Linked DNA regions of Homo sapiens: region 1 is linked to region 2. A link means that fine-mapping ties the variant in region 2 to the expression of a gene that starts in the linked region. Tissue or cell type: whole blood. Region 2 holds a variant in brackets; the other region holds the start of a gene. All regions are shown on one strand. Distances are from middle to middle.

What was found. PIP is the estimated chance that this variant, and not a neighbour inherited with it, causes the effect.
Region 1: it holds the start of ANTXR2, and the variant in region 2 is fine-mapped to the expression of ANTXR2 in whole blood (TOPMed, PIP 0.97).

The regions. Positions count from the first base shown.
Region 1 is chr4:80,068,866-80,076,972 of GRCh38, reverse strand. ANTXR2 (ANTXR cell adhesion molecule 2) reads left to right here and starts at 3,744. Exons shown (of 17, transcript NM_058172.6): 1 at 3,744-4,564; 2 at 5,319-5,390; 3 at 7,466-7,537. The coding sequence starts at 4,413. RefSeq lists enhancers at 1-624, 3,395-3,674, 4,005-4,114 and a silencer at 4,295-4,454.
Region 2 is chr4:80,188,240-80,196,346 of GRCh38, reverse strand. PRDM8-AS1 (PRDM8 antisense RNA 1) reads left to right here. Exons shown (of 6, transcript NR_183912.1): 3 at 4,035-4,141; 4 at 6,196-6,391; 5 at 6,488-6,598. It also overlaps a transcript of PRDM8 not described here. Among named protein-coding and RNA genes, the nearest start is that of PRDM8-AS1, 5.1 kb to the left of the region's middle. RefSeq lists enhancers at 1-234, 5,458-5,973, 5,974-6,490. The variant G/A (reference allele first, on the strand shown) is at 4,614.

The DNA.
Region 1 (8,107 bases), 120 kb after region 2:
GTTGCTACCACTTCTTTTTCATGGCTTGGAGAGATTTTCATGTCTGCTTTTGCTTTCATCTTCCCTCATTATTGCTTAGGAAAAGAATGACCAACAGTTTTGCTTGCCAGGAACTATCCCAGGGACTGCCCTAGTTTTAGCATGGAAAGTCCCATGTCCATGAGACTGAAGACACCCCTCAGTCTGTGACAAATTAGGACACTTGGCTGCCCCAGTAATTAATGATCTTCTGATTAATTTTTATTAAATGAAAGTGATTTGATTAGTTATTGGTCTGAGGCCATTTTTTGCTTTGCTGTAGATCTTACATGAGCAAGTCAGTGAGATGCAAAATGCTCCAGGACTGGGATGAATTCTTTACCCAAGCAAACAGATAAACAAAAAAGTGCTACTATTTTTCTGGTATGTCAATATTCTCTGCCAGCCTTGTACTCAAGAAAGAAGAACTGAGTGGGAGTACTCTCAGAAGGCCTGGAAATTTTGAGGAAGAATGAGTTTTAAATTGAGGTATTTTGCTTTAGTTTGAACCTAGGACAAGATGGATTCTTAGACCAGTTTGGGAAGTCCCAGAAGATGAGCAGGTAATTAGTCAAGACTAGGGATAAAGGAAACCAACAAATGTGAGTTTAAAATACTTCCTTAGGAGGACAGAGTACATGGTTAGTATCATGTCTCATATTTCTTTGCCTTCTGTCTCCTTCTAACATGAAACCAATTGTCACTTTTTTGGGGGGATACATTTTTTCCCCAGATTTTATTCAATAACATGCTGATGTGGCATATAATATCTTTGATTCTGTCTTAAGATTAAAGTTGAAAATGGAAACCAGTTTCAACCAGCAATGAATACAAAACCTTGAAAGATGAACAAGCTGTTGATACAAATTTCCTGAAAATGTCAGCCTGTTTCAGTTCTCTTATGGGAAGTCAGGGAGATTTATGTATTCAGGTTGGACCAAAATGTGAAATGAGAAGTGGCAACACATACCTGGAGACTGGAGGGCTGCAGAAGTAATCAGTATTTTAGAACCTCAAGAAAAGATGAAGCCAAGGAGGACAGAATTAAGGTGCTTTAAGGACTTTCTTAATTAGTCTCAGGACTAATTAAGGACTTGCTTCTAGTGCTTAATTATTTGAAAATTATGAAGGCTGTATGTTTCCTTCTTACAAAAGTAAAAGTTATCTTCCATCTAGCTAGCCCCTTGCCCCTCAGTATCTTCCTCACTCCATCAGGTAAAAAGTGGCAGATTGATGCAGTTGATAGTGGTGGAATTTCCATCCCCAAGTGACCAGTTGGCAAAGAGTGAGAAGGGATGTTAGCCACCCTCCATTCAATGTTTGACATTTGTAATGAGCATATTTTCAAAATGGAGGTCTGCCGGTATATATTGAAGTTTTCATCCATTCATAATTCTCAGGTTAGTTGCTATAGTGATGATGGTCCAAGGTACCATTTTATTTTGCCTTTGTTAAAATAGAGATGATAAGACTGACAGAATGTACTCTGTGTTCATAAGACACCAAATTATAAACAAGACCTAAGACCATGCCAGGCAAAGGTCAAGTCACACACTCCTACACTTAAAAAATAAACTATATTCTAACTGCCAAAAGGGTTTTCTTTTTCTCTAGCATCTAAACAAACACTGGCCTCCAGATAAGCAATATTGAAACAATTGCATCTTACTGACTGCAAGACACTAACTAATTAATCCTCCACCCCTACCCCTGTTCCACAAGCCATAACTACAGCTCTGACTGGACAAGAGACTGATTTTAATAACTCTCCTGATAAGAGACCACTGACCATAGACTGGTTCTGGCTGGTTTACAGAGGCTGTGGCACTGAGTGCCTTCATGTCTTCTGTTTCACCTTTTGACATATAGGGCCTAATTATAATACATTTAATTGTTAAGTCTCCACCTCAAAGTGAACATGAGACATATGCAACTTGCATGTTTGCTTACTATTCATGTTTGCTTACTAAACATGCATGTTGCATATGTCCCATGTTCACTTTGATGTGGAAACTTAACCCACCTGCTTCAGAAATATGCATAGTTCATGTACCCCTTGCTTCAGAAATATTCATAGTTCCTCCTATAACCTGTTGAATATGTATACTTGGCCAACTCATTTAGCATAAATTCCTGTTCCACCCTTTCCTCCCTCAAAGTGCCTGCTTTTTGTCTCTGCCAGAGGCTACACTTCCCAGCCTGTCAAGATGTCCAGCCTGCAGCTGTAACCCTTTATAAGAAATGAAGTTCTCCTTTCCAAATTTATGAACCTCAGGATTGTTTGTCAACATGTTGCTACTGCAATAGTCTCCTAACTGCTCTCCCTGTTGTCACTGTTGCTAACTCCAAATTCATTGTCTCATTGCAGCCAGAATGATCTTTGAAAAACACAGATCATATCAATTCATCTGCCACTCCACTCCTGGGCTTAAACCCCTCTAATAACCTCCTGTCACACTCAATATTAAATATCTGAATTCCTTATCTCAGTAAACAAAGCATCACATAATCTGGCCCTTGCCTATTTGTCTTACATCATCTTACCTGCAAAGCTCCAGCTACACAGTTTTTTTTTTTTCTTTTTTGAATATGCTAAGCTAATGTCTATGGACCTTTGCAGTAACTCCAAATGTTTCCCCTTAGAGCTCTTGGAATGACTGGGTCTTTTTTGTTAGTCACTGAGTCTGTCATTCTTTATCATCACAATATTTTAAATTTCTACAGGCCACCTTTCCAATATGGACATTTTTTTTCCTTGCTTATGTATTTATTTCTTATTGTCTGTTTTCACTCTTCAGCCAGACTGTCAGCTTCATGAAAGCAAGGGCTTGTTATCTTGTTCTGTGCACTAACCTCCACTTCTGGAACAGTGCCTAGCAAATAATAGGCACTCAATGAATCTTTGTTAAAGTAACTAATTTTTATCTTCAAAGAGCTGACATATCTGGTTGTATATCAAATATAATAAATGAAAAGTTAAATACATATGGCAACAAACAGAAGAGATGTATATGTAAGTACTACATAAAGCATTGATTTTGTTAAAAATGAAAAGGTATTTAGGTTCTAAAAGCCAGTTTTGACTAAGGGAGGGCGGAAGTCACGGAGGTGGGGGGAAGAGAGAGGAGGGAGAGCAGAACTAGTAGACAGAGGATTTGTGCACAAACTTGAGTGCTTGCACAAGTTTTGCAAAGGAGACCTAGCTTGCCCAAAGCTGAAATTCTCCAAAACTGGAGCTTGCAGGGAAATGACAGTGGGCTGAAATATTTTGAGGTACAACTTTCCACTCCCAAAGAGGCCTGCTATCCCCTCCCACTCCCCACTCCGGCCTTTCCTTGGCTTGGCTTTTTTTAAAGAAAAAAAAAAAAAAAACTAAGCAGGTTTCTTTAGAAGAAAAAGAGGAAGTTCATAAAGAGTGTTTGTGGTAGTAGGGGTGGGGTGGAGTGAGGAGTGAGGAGGCCGTCACCTCCCATGGAATCCTTAGTCTTGGGTTTGTGAACCACGCATGGGGGCTGTTTTAGCACAGCTGCTAAAATAGGCCAGGCCTGCAGGACATACGGGTATGTTTAGTTTCTAGATAACTTTTGTTTTTCTAAACTCCTTCTTCCCTTTCCCAAATCTGGCAAGCGTTAGTCATCTTCAACTCGGCAGGAACCCACAAGTGTGCATGTGTGGCTCGGAGGCTTCAGCTGGGGCCCCGCCCTCGTCCCCAGGCGCACACTGACACACGCAGCCCAGACCCGGCCCGAGCGGGCTCCTGCCCTCGGCGTGGCTTCTCTCCAGCCGGGAGTCCCAGGGCCAGCTAGCCTCCTCCCCTAAAGGGGACGGCCTGTCAGCGCAGTGCCAGAGTCCAGCACCGGGAGGAAAGTTTCGGAGTGCGGAGGGAGTTGGGGCCGCCGGAGGAGAAGAGTCTCCACTCCTAGTTTGTTCTGCCGTCGCCGCGTCCCAGGGACCCCTTGTCCCGAAGCGCACGGCAGCGGGGGGGACTTCAGCCCTCCAGGCGGGGTGGGTTCCAGGTCCGGGTCCGAGGCGGGCGCTGGAGGCTCGGCCCCAGGCCGGAGAGGAACTCCTTTCGCGAGCTGTCGCCGTGGGCCCGCATTGTCTGCAGGAACTCTCCGGAATCGGGAGGGGGAGGACTGGATCGCGCTTCCACTGGGATTCGTCAAGAGTTCCGGCGGCAGCTGCGGCGGTGGCGGAGACTCCCTTTGTCCTCTCAGGACCTCCCTCTCTCCCTCCCTGTCAGCTGGTGGGTCCCGCTGCCGCAGGCGCCGGCGTCTCAGCTGCTCGCCGCCCCCCACCCCAGAGTGCGTGCCGGGTGACTCCCGCCACCTTTGCGACCCTCCTGAGCTTAGGGGACTGCGAGCGGGAGGGAGTCTCAGGCCCCCGGCCGCAGGATGGTGGCGGAGCGGTCCCCGGCCCGCAGCCCCGGGAGCTGGCTGTTCCCCGGGCTGTGGCTGTTGGTGCTCAGCGGTCCCGGGGGGCTGCTGCGCGCCCAGGAGCAGCCCTCCTGCAGAAGAGCCTTTGATCTCTACTTCGTCCTGGACAAGTGAGTGTGCGAGGGAGGTCCAGGGTCTCCTGGTGAGGGCGGCACTGGATCAGCTGGGGCTGAGGCTGAGATGCGTGTGCGCACCCCGGGGAGTGGTGTTGGAAACCCGCGGAGGGGTGCCCTGTTGCTGTCTTCTTTCAAAGGGCAAGCGCGTTCGGATCTGTGTGGGCGGAGATCAGCCGGGTCGGGGGTAGTGATTGGAGCCCCGGGCTACTTGGCTCTTTGGGGAGTTGGGGTATTCACTGTTTGCCAGTCTTTTGGCCTCTTGGGAAATGGGAGTGTGGCCTCTTGCGGGCCACGCTCCATCGGCCACAGAGTCCTTACCCACCTCCTCGACCCTGCTCGTACGCAGGCTAAAGTTTGCCTGGTTTTATCCTAATCATAGCGCTTTCATTGGAGCCAGGAAAAGCCTAGGGTTAACATGCCCAATGTGGTTTGCATTTCCTGCGAAGAAAGGCTTTTGTGTTTACTCTGAAGAGCTGGGTTCCACTCTAAACAATTAGGCAGGTATTTACCCACCCCAGAAAACGGGCTGACTTCTTCTTCTTCTTTTTTTTTTTGACGGAGTCTTGCTCTGGGACTGACTTCTTTAACTCTGGGTACCACCAAAGTTTCAGCTACAGATACCCTTACTTAGCTTGAAAAAGAGGCCAGGTGCCCCTATGTTCGTGGCATTGAAGAAGGAACCATTTCAAAATGTTTACTTTTCAGTTCCGTGTTTTGTTTCTCTGATCAGTTCAATTTCATCTTTCAGGTCTGGGAGTGTGGCAAATAACTGGATTGAAATTTATAATTTCGTACAGCAACTTGCGGAGAGATTTGTGAGGTATCTTTCTTACTTTACTTTTCTAGGCAGTGGAGAAGTAGAGCAAAGTGTAGAATTTCCCTTTTCTGAAACCTTTTATAGGAAAAACTTTTCCTGAAATGTTACTTTTAAGTGCCTCAAGGTCGTATTGCACACATGCTGTTATTAGGACAGCCCTTCAGTCCTTGAGGGCTTATTTCATCTGGATCCCAGAAACTTGGCTCAGACTCTGGGGAAGCATCTTCAAATACTATTCCAAATGTCTTTTTCTTTCCGAATTTTCATCTGTTTTGAATTTCAGTTATGCTTTCTCATAATTTATCACATTAAAAAAATAAATTTTATGCGAATAGTATCCATAATATATTTTTCTTTCCACACATTTCTTAGCATTATAGAGGCCCTCATTAAAACAAACAAAAAGTGTTGGAAAACTTCAAATGAACATGTGTTAATAACCCGCTACCAGAAAAGGCACTTGTGTGTGTGTTTAAAGCAACGACTTGTGTTTACACAATGTGTGGGTGTGTGGTTGGTTTAAAATTTAACTGTTCTATATATGCAATAAGCATCACCAGGAAAGACTGGTTTCCTCTCCTATAAAAAGCATTACTGGTATGAAATCCAGCTTACTCTCTTATTTAGAGGTAACTAGGAATTAGTGGCATCTCCTATTTAAAAATAACCTCAGGACACTAGGCTTTTGAGGCTTTTTTTTTCCTTCTTTTTTTTTTAAAGAAAAAATGCAATGAGCAAACACAAGTTTATCAAGATAATGGAAAGGACATGAATAGGAACTGTATCATTAAATATTGCTTCTTTCAGTCTTGTTAGCCCAAATGTTTTCTGTAAAACAGGCTTGGATGATCAAAACATTTTGAAAGTCATGTTGCAAGTAACTTCAAACAATCTGTAGAGGCCTAGGCAATCCTTGCTTTCAGTTATTGGCAGCAGTAAAGTTATCCCTATAAAAATGTATGCCTGTCCATGTTCAATCATCAGTCCCTTGCTTAAGAAGCCAAGTTTAACACTCATTTCTGGACAGGGTCTGAGGTAAAACTGTCTAGGAAAGAAAAACAAACAAGATCCTATGTCCCTAAATGTCAAAGGCAGAACAGACAGTTGTTTATAAATTTTCTAATTTAATCCTTCAATGTGAAAAGGGTGTCATGTAGATTTTGATCAAAAGCAATGAATCACATCACTACAACATTTTAAAGAAGCAAGCTCTTATCTTAACTCATTGATCTGGTTTTTAAGTTGGAATTCTATAATACACAGTTGTCTGGCTCAAGCCTAGTTGCTCAATTACTAACAATACATTGTAGGAAGTGAATAAGGGGTGACTAATGAAGAGACTGACTTTTAAAATATGTATAAGCCTTTGAGAGGATTCTGATTTTCAGTTTATAGATTCTAGTTTCATATCTTCAGTTTTGAATCTTAGTAGTAGTTGCAGAGAGTGTCCGAGAAGCAAGAACCGTTCTGTGAGAGACATGCCTAAAACTTGAAAGATATAGCTGACTGGGGCACTTGTTGCCAATGGAAAATAGCATGTTTGAGACTTAGAAAATAAAAAATGCCTAAGCAGAAAGTGATTTATTGTTTCTTTCACATTTTCCATGACTCTTTAAGTAGTCTTACTTCAGGATGACTTTTTTATAGACTCATATCATAGTTATGGTCATTAAGTCAAACTGGGTACTCTCCACCCATAAGTGTTGATAACCATAATCACTTTGAAGGGCCTGGCCACCTTTAAAGGAAATGTTGTAGAAAACCAAGGGAAGAGGAATTTTCTACGAAAGAATTTTACATCAGCTTAGAATTTATCTTTCCAGTTAGTCTCTCTCTAAATGCAAGTCCTTATGGGTCATGGAGGAGTATGTGAGTGCTGGGAAGCGTTGACTAAATCCAAAATGACTTATGCAACAATGTTAAGCAGAGTTCGTCTATTTACTTAGGGAATGTCATTTAAAAGAAGCCTGGACCATTCAGTGAGACCAATTTTAAATGAACCTCCCTAACTATACATCTGTATCGTATCAATATTTCTTTTTAAAAATGTTTTAACTGCCTCTTTTCTTATTTTGCAGCCCTGAAATGAGATTATCTTTCATTGTGTTTTCTTCTCAAGCAACTATTATTTTGCCATTAACTGGAGACAGGTTAGTGCATTATCATTTCACTGCAGGCTTTTAGTAGAGATGAATTTTAAAGGCATGATTGATATTTCCAAGTGGTGATTCAGGCCTCTCAGTGGAATCAAGCAGATGCACAGACAATTCAGTTCTCTAATAGAAGGGAAAGGAGGTATGAGTAATATAAAAGAGCAGTTAATCTGAAAATCAATATCATTTATAGTGGCTGTGGAATGTGCAGTGAAATCTAGATCCCTGTCTTAGTTGTATATTCACCACTTCCTACCTTCCCCGGCCTCTCTGTTACTGTAAGTAGTTCTACATTTTTCTTGTTTAGATATAATATATTAATCAACCAGGAATTTGAAGAACATTGAGGGGGAGAAAGATATGGATCCTTTTGGATAATTTCCTAGATTCAGTAGACATCCTGGATTTCTGGTCTTTCTCTGAGGTCCATTAATGCTGAATATATTCACCTTTATAAGGGAACTTAGTATATATCAATATGTATACCAATATATCTCTATATCTATCTACCTATCTATTTAATCTCCTTAGTGTTTTTTAAAAGGTGTCTTTTTCAGACCAATGTCA
Region 2 (8,107 bases):
GGAAGAAAGGCCTTTGAGTGGTATAGACAGTTTCTCAACTCCTTCAGCCCCACACACACCACCACTACTTTGAAGTGGGCAATCTGTCAGCATTAGGATAAATCGGATTGTGTAGCTAGCTAAAGTGGAGGAGGCAGAACCACAACGTAAGGAGACAGCCTCGTTGTTGTTTTTCCTAGTGTTGAAATAATGTATTTGGGGAGTTGGCAAAGAGCAGCTTACCATGTTAGTTTGATCCTCTCCCAGCTTTGAGACCCTTCTCTGGAACTCAGTGGGGTATTGAGGCTTTGACAGCCTGGTGACTGCAGTCCCAGGAGGCCAGGGGAGGATTTTGCTGAGGAGAAACAAGTGCAAGGACTTTCCCATGAAGTTCATGTTCTTCCTTGTTCTCTCTCTCTCTCTCTCTCTCTCTCTCTCTGTGTGTGTGTGTGTGTGTGTGTGTGTATTTCCTTCTCTTTTCTGGTTAGTACCCCAGGCAAATTCCGAATTGCTGCCTAGAATTAAGCTGAAATTCACAGAAGGAAGGGCTGCAAAATCCCCATATATTCAGAGAAAATGGGGAATCCCTTAGTTTTCAGGTTAGCTACTGACTTTTCAAAGAAAGCTTCTTGAAGTGCAGTTTTATGTACTTTGGCTATGTGCAATTTTATCTACTTCGGCTAAGGTTGGCTCCTAATGACCAAGGCTCAGTGCAATGAGGGCTCTCTCACATGCCTGTATGTAAGAATCTGCAGCTATACTGAGCTACCAATTGTCTTCTGACTGATTGCTCCATTGAATACTAGATTCACTTCTCAGTCTCTCTCTCTCTCTACACACACACAAACACACACACACACACACACACAAAGTATGGACACATGGTCCCCTAATACTTCTTTAAAGAATGGGTGGAAGCATTAGAAATGTGAAAATAATGTCTCAAACATCTGGAAAATAAACCTCAGGTTTGAAGAATAGTGGCCAGAAACTTAAGTTAATTCAGAGTAGAAGAAAGAAGAAAAATAAAGAGCAGAAGAGGCACGGGTGTAAACAACTTCAAGTTAAGAAAGAAAAGTAGCCATAAGAGAGTCATGTGGTCCCTTAGAAACTAGACTGATAAATGCAATATGGTGTGTGAGGAGCAGTGTTTAAGAACATAATTTCATTAATCTGTCTAACAGAACACTCCTTAATGCTTTCTTTTGCTGTTATTTAGAGAATTGGAATTTTATCTTTCAGGAAAAGTCATCTGTCCATGCAAACCATTAAAAAATTATCTTACATATTGTAAATATGTAAGCCTCTACTCCAGAATGTGGACATTTAGAAAATAAACTCTAAATGGAAGGCATTTTTCTTGTGCCTGGCCTTTCTCTTATTAAATACAGAGACCATTTAAACTATATTTCTTTTGAGGTACTAAAACCTTGACTCCAGTTTGTATAAAATAATGTTTTTGGTACTTAAGTTGAGGGTGGAACAGCTTGACCTTTTTATGTCTTAAGCTAGAAAACAGCGACAATTTTATACATCTGAGAAGGGAGCAATTTATTGAGAATCTGGCCAACAGATGCTTCATTTCAGTTTCACTTTTTTGCCCTCTAATTAATTTTTTTCCTACTGCTTTCAGGTAGAGATCCTTAAATATAAGAATTTCTCACATTTTATGAATCTGACCTACCCTTTTTATTATGAGTTAAATAACTGACATAACAAAACAATATAAGTAAGATTAAGTCGAAATTCTTACTTGAAGAGTTTTCTAGTAATTTAAGTGGTACACATTTTGCTTGGTAATATAAATGTCCTAAATGACAATAATTAATAGGGGATAAAGAAAATCTACAAATTATTTTTATTTCTGTAGAAATTTATGGGCTAAAATGGTACATAAACTACTTTGAAATCACTCTGCATTAATACTTACTGGAATTCACTGATACTAAATGAAGGGTTGAGGCATTTATTCAGCCTCAGACAGTACTATAAAAGTGTACCTAGTCAATAGTTTTATGTAATTCATATGGAACAATGGGTTTATGCATATATTTGGAGCTCTCTTCCCTAGGATTTTATTTCCAATTAAGTAATTAGAAGAATGACAATGAAGAGTGGGTATGCTCACCTTGTTCCACTTTAGCAAGGCTCTTTGGAGTCCTGGCAAAAATACACATGTAGGAAACTGTAGTGTTATTTTGGAAGAGTGGGCTGGAGAGAGGTTGATAAATGACACCCCAGGTGGCTTTTATGACCTAAGTGAGAGGGTGGAGAAAGGGTAAGAAAGGGAATTTTAATTCTTAGGGAGTATTAGAATGGGAACACTCTTTCTCTTCCCAGGGTTCAAAAATGGAGCCCAAAATATTTCAACTTCTGTGATAAGAGGCAGGTAACATCTCCAAGAATAATTCACGTAAAGATTATTATCCCATGAGAATGAAAACACACTGATTTTCTTTTTCTATATCTTTCTAGGTCCTGGCTTACCCACCTCTAACTCTATTGCCAAAGCACTATGCCAGCAAAGGCTTGATTGTCAAAAGAGTATGGCAATTCATGGTGAAAGGGGGGGAAAAAACCCACACACTGGAAGATAAGAGGATGCCAATGGAGCAGACAGTGGCAGCTCCTTCCTAAGCTTATTAATTTCCCACAGGGAGGTCTCTGGAAGGGGCTGTGAGGGTTGAGGGAGGAAGAGAATAGATCTTCAAGGAGGAGTATTGTATTACCTAGCCTCACCATTCAGAATAAGGAACTTTTTAAGGGATAAACTTTACTGACTACTTGTACATGAAAGAGAAACAGAAATGATGGGCTGGTCAATTAAGAAAAACACCAGGCCTGTGCCAAAAATGTTGTTCAGAGGGTTGTTAACTCATTTTCTACCACTTTGCCTTTATCAAGAGAAAGATACATGGTGGGTTTTTAAAAAGACCCAGAGGGGTTTGTTTGTTTGTTTTACATTTTGGTGAGTCGAGAAGAGCCATGCTTGCTGAGTTGGGTAAAGGATGATGTGAGGGGGTGGGGTGTGGGAAGGGCTACTCGTTTTTTATAAGTATACATTGCAAACTCAGTTTAGGTCTGTTCCTCACCCTAAGTATTGTAGTTGGCTCACTGGGTATTACATGAGCAAATGTTTTCCAGGCTGGCCCTGGGAAAGCCAGAGACTCAGGGTTGGGTAATTTTGTAGCCTGTGAGGAAGGACTTCAGGCTCCCAACTGTAGGGATCATTACTTCTGACTCATACTTTTCTCTCTTGGGCTTTTCCTCGTAAATGATCCTGCTTTTAATCCTGCTGCTCCTGCAGCTACTACTACCACCATTATCATTACAATGATAATCTACCTTTCTCAAGTTTAAAACTTTCTCTCTTAGCCATTCCCAAGTTTTACTTACACTTGTGTTGGAGTTCAGCTGAGAATGGGATAGTCTTTGAAAGCTGTATGTTATTATCTTCCTCTCCTGGATCTGGGTTGTAGTGAACTGGCTTAATGGCCTCTGAGTATGACTTTTAGAAGGGCTAGCAAACCGAAGTGACATTGTGCACAACTACCAACAGATATGAAATCAGTGCCCCATACTCATCTGTGTGAGTGTGACCTCTGAACCAAATCCAATATCCACTATTTCAACCCCCTGGGTTCTCCCAAATGTTATACTCTTCCCCAGATGAGTGTGTAAAGATCTGGCAAGAAAAGGCTTGGATTTTTGTCAAATCTGTAGGTTCCAAAGTCCTTCCTAGACTCAGACACCACACCCTTTGAACGCATCTCAGTGTGAAGGGGGTTGACTGGTTGTAGCCAGTTCTCCATCAGTCACTCTGAACCTCCTTACCCTCTGGGTCAGGATTTTTAGGCAGACTGCAGATCAGGGGATGTCTAGCAGTCTCAAATTGGTGTCCAGCAGTCTCAAATGAAATTTTGAGAAGTCTAACTCTAGGCCTTGGGAATGTGACAACATTGAGAGGCTTTACATCAAATTTCTTCACACAGCCAGGAGAATGGACATCATCCCAATTCAGTACCTGTGTGCCACCCTTTTCTTCTCTGTTTTAGGTGGATTGTAATTCCTGAGTTAAATAAAGAGGCAACGATAGACACACAGCATATATATCCTGGGCAGACTACACTCCTTGACATCTAATCCCAGTTAGCTTTCTGAGGTATGGACTGTAAGAATTCGGGCTGCTGGGGAAAAAGCAGCAGAAAGCATGGCTCTTCTGGGAAAGAGGTCTAGGCAGGGGACACAAATGTCCAGTACTTGGAATAAACCCATGGTACACTTTCCTGAGGCCTGAAGAGAGAGACATTTCATTTTCTCCAGGAAAAGAGAAGCGAGAGAAAGAAAGTAAAAAGAAAGGAAGAAAGAGAGAGACAAAGAGTATTTGAGAAGCGGATACCAGTTAGGAACCACAATAGTGGTGATTTACCTTGTATTAAAGAGTATTGGAAATATGGTTCAATTTCTTCACAAATTATGCTCCCAAACTGCTCCCTTGCTCATATTGCCAACTGAACTCTGAGTGAAAACTATCTTTCATGATTTCAGTTCAATTAATCCCAGGTGTTCTATGATTTAATCCAGGGGTATTAATTTAGCATCAATGGGGGATGTCTCCCAAAACATTATATGAA[G/A]AGGTGTTAGTTTTCAGAAGATTTTCAAAAACACTTGAAAGCTACCAATGTAAGTCTTTCCTCACTGCTAATACTTGGAAAGGTGGTCTCCTTAAAAAAATTCAAAGATCAACATGTCACAAATGCAGCAACATCATTATTACTATAAACACTTCTGGACTTACATTATGAAGTGGAGGCAAGAATAGGCAAGGATTGTAACATATTTGTTCTCTTGAACTTGCTGAGCGAAAAGATGCTTCCCAGGCTGATTTGATAGTATCTGTAATATAGTAACCGTGGTATTATTCATAATCTCCTTTTAAGGAAGTTTAAAGGAAAACTCATATTTTTCAAAGAAATAATACCCGGAATTGCTAAATAAAACACTCATACATTCCTAAGAATAAACATGTTGAATATAATGACCTAGATGTTGAGATTTGCTAGGCCTAGAATTTAACTTAGGCCTGAATAACTTTATACCTGAGCAGAAATTGTCCTCTATGCATATATGGGTATGGGTGTGTGTTTAAGAAGGTTGGGGTGAATGTTGTCAAAGGCAGCAATTAAAAATAAGTTTTAGGACTGTCATTTTACTTGGATGCTTGTCCATTAAGTAGCCAGTGCTCTTTTTTGGATGTTTTCATGTAGGGTGGTTTTGAGAAAATAGTTTGTGTGAAGTCATACAGGACAGCAATTGGTCCCAAGGGAGCAAATTGAATAGCTATAAAGAATATATTTCCTGAGTATAATGTTACTATCTAATATCTTGTGTGTGTGATCAACTATCCCACAGCATTATCTATATTCTAGAGTCAGTTTACTGAAGTCCTAAGACATCTATGTTCCAGATAAGTGGGGTTCCCCTAAACTTGTGAAAATATCCTCGAGAAAGCCAATGCCAATGCACCGAATGCAACGAGTTTCATTTCTAACCTGGGGGACTGAATTAGCTGCTCCTCCTCAAGGCCCCACACAGCTGAGTTTGAGTCCTAAGTTTGGGAAGCAAGACAAGGCACAGAAGTGCCTGCTAGACTCGGACACTTCCTGATGTCTAGATTGTCCGGTGCCCATGTCTTAGTGAAAGGTACAGCGACAGAACTAAGAGTGCAGAGAAGGCCAAATCACGGACTTCAATGTTGGCAAACCGGGTTTCCCTGGGAGAGATCCAAGGAGAGTAACGCCCCCACAGTATCAGGAGGCGCAGACACAGATCACATCGTTTGAGCTGATTCACCAAAGAGTGCAGAGCCCTGACACAGGAGGCTACCAGGGCAGAACAAAACAAGCCATCGTCTGCCCGGCGTCGCCCTTGTAGACGCACAGTGCGCAAACCGTGAATGTGGGGCAGTGTGGGGCCAAGCGGTGCGCTTGGTACGCTCCAAATGAGCCCTGGGCGAAGCAGGGAGGAAATGCAGTTCCCAAGGGCCCGCCACATTTCCCATGTTCTTTAGCCTTCCACCGGCAATTAGTGCCATCACTTGCTTCCCGCTAGGTGACCACTTAACCTGCGGAAAGGCGTTCCAAGGGCGGGGCCTGCGGGAACCTAACACTCTTTCCACCACCCTCTCTCCCTGCCTCTGTGCACGACCTCGACCAGCTGGTCGCCTGATCTCGTTTAGCAGGGCAGGAGCCTGTGTTCCCATTTCTTACTAGCTGGGCTGCCGATGACCTAGCTCAGCCTTGGTTTTCCTCCGGTTGAACAAAAGCTGGCAAGAGCTGCCTCCCGGATCGCAGTGAGGACTCTAAGGGAACGAGGGCGAACGCGCTTTGGAAAGCCAGTTGCTGAGCAGATGGTAAGGGATCACTTCCAAGAGCCAGGGCTAGTTTCATTTCAGTCTTGGACACGAGATGGTCTCAATGCCTTCATTAATGAACATTCTCCTTAGAAGTCTGGAGAACTGACCCAAGAAGAAGGACCAACAATTCAGGCTCAGGAAAGCCCACAATTCCACAGGGGAACCAGGACTGCATGGCTTCGAATCCCAGCCCTCCCCACTCAGGTAATTTAACTGGTCTATACTTCAGTCTTTCATCTGTGAACTGAGAGCATTAAAGGGACCCTTTTCATAAAGTTAGTGCTGAGGTGATACTTAGCAAGCAGAGAACAACGCTTGGTACATACTAAATGCCCATTTCAGAGCTGCCTATTGTTACTAACACTGCCTTTGCTTCCTCATTAGAAAACTGGGAACTGTATTGTGAACCCACTTTCCAAGTGACCCAGCGAGGGCTGAGGATTTCCCGAAGTTTCTAGGGAGAAATGGAAGGAAAGGCAGTCATCCCTTCCCTCTTTCCCAGCCCGCACCGCGCACCTCCCACCCCCACCCCAGGTTTAATGCAAGAGCAATCAGTTTGCTGCGGAAGGCCTGCCCGGTAGATTGATATTTGACTTCCATCCTCCCATGCCCAGCTTGCAAGTTCTTTCTTTAGGCCTGGTAGAGGCGCCAAGGGTCAGGGTCGCGGTGCCACGTTAGAAACGCGGATAAGTCAGTCTGTTAAAGGCTGATCCGGGCGACTCCGTAGGATGAGAAGCATGTGAACACGTTGATGGTAAACTCCAGCGCCGCGGCCAAAAGCCGAGGTCTGGGGGTGGGCAGAGAAACCTGGGGACCGGGCTTCCCAGCGCTGACCAGGGCTCTGGGCCTCCTAGAGCGCGCGTGACCTTCCCACTCCTGTGAAGGGCTGTGGCTCAGATGCGGACCGGGTGGATGGCTCCAGCCCTCCCCTACACACCCAAGTCCCGGAGCTTGGCAGGACGAGGTAACTGATGCCCGGAGGCAGCAGCTACACCACTGGCACTGGAGCTTTGTGCAGGGCGAGTTCCCCCCGTGGCTGCCCTCACTCCTTGTCCCAGCGCCCGCACGCTGGCTTCGAGCGGAGCCCTGTGGGCCGCACGACAGACGGAGCTCCCTGTCTGGCTCGCGATGCCCGGCGGAGCCTCCTTCTCCTAGCCCACGCAGCTTCCGCGCAGGAGCAGCCCTGAACGGGAGCTTTACGTTTTCCCCACGCGCACCGTCTCAAGTTATATGAAACTTTCCGCCCAGGCTAGGACTGGGGATCAGGTAATAGCGGTCAGTTGTGGGTTCCCAGTTGCTCTTCCTCCTGAAGGATCCAAGAGGCAGTGGTTAAGAGGTTGATATTTGGGATTTTGAACACTCAGGTCTGAACCCGGGGTCTGTAATCTCCTACCTGTGTGTTTGAGCAAATTACATAACCTCTCTGAAATTTAGTATCTTCATTTGTAAAATAGTAAAGACAACATCTATCTCATAGAGTGGTTATGAAGCCTGGGTTCAGATCCCAGCTAGGCCACTTGCTTGAGTTAGTTAGTATCTCTATGCTTTTGTTTCCTGTGAAGCAGGGGGATCTGTGAAATAGGGATATTATAATATTTAACATCAATAACATCATATTTAAAGGGTCAGCATAAGAATTAAGTGTGATGAGGCTGGAAGAGCATTCAGCCTAGCACAAAAGAAATGCCCAAAGTTTAAAGCAGCTCAGTGTCT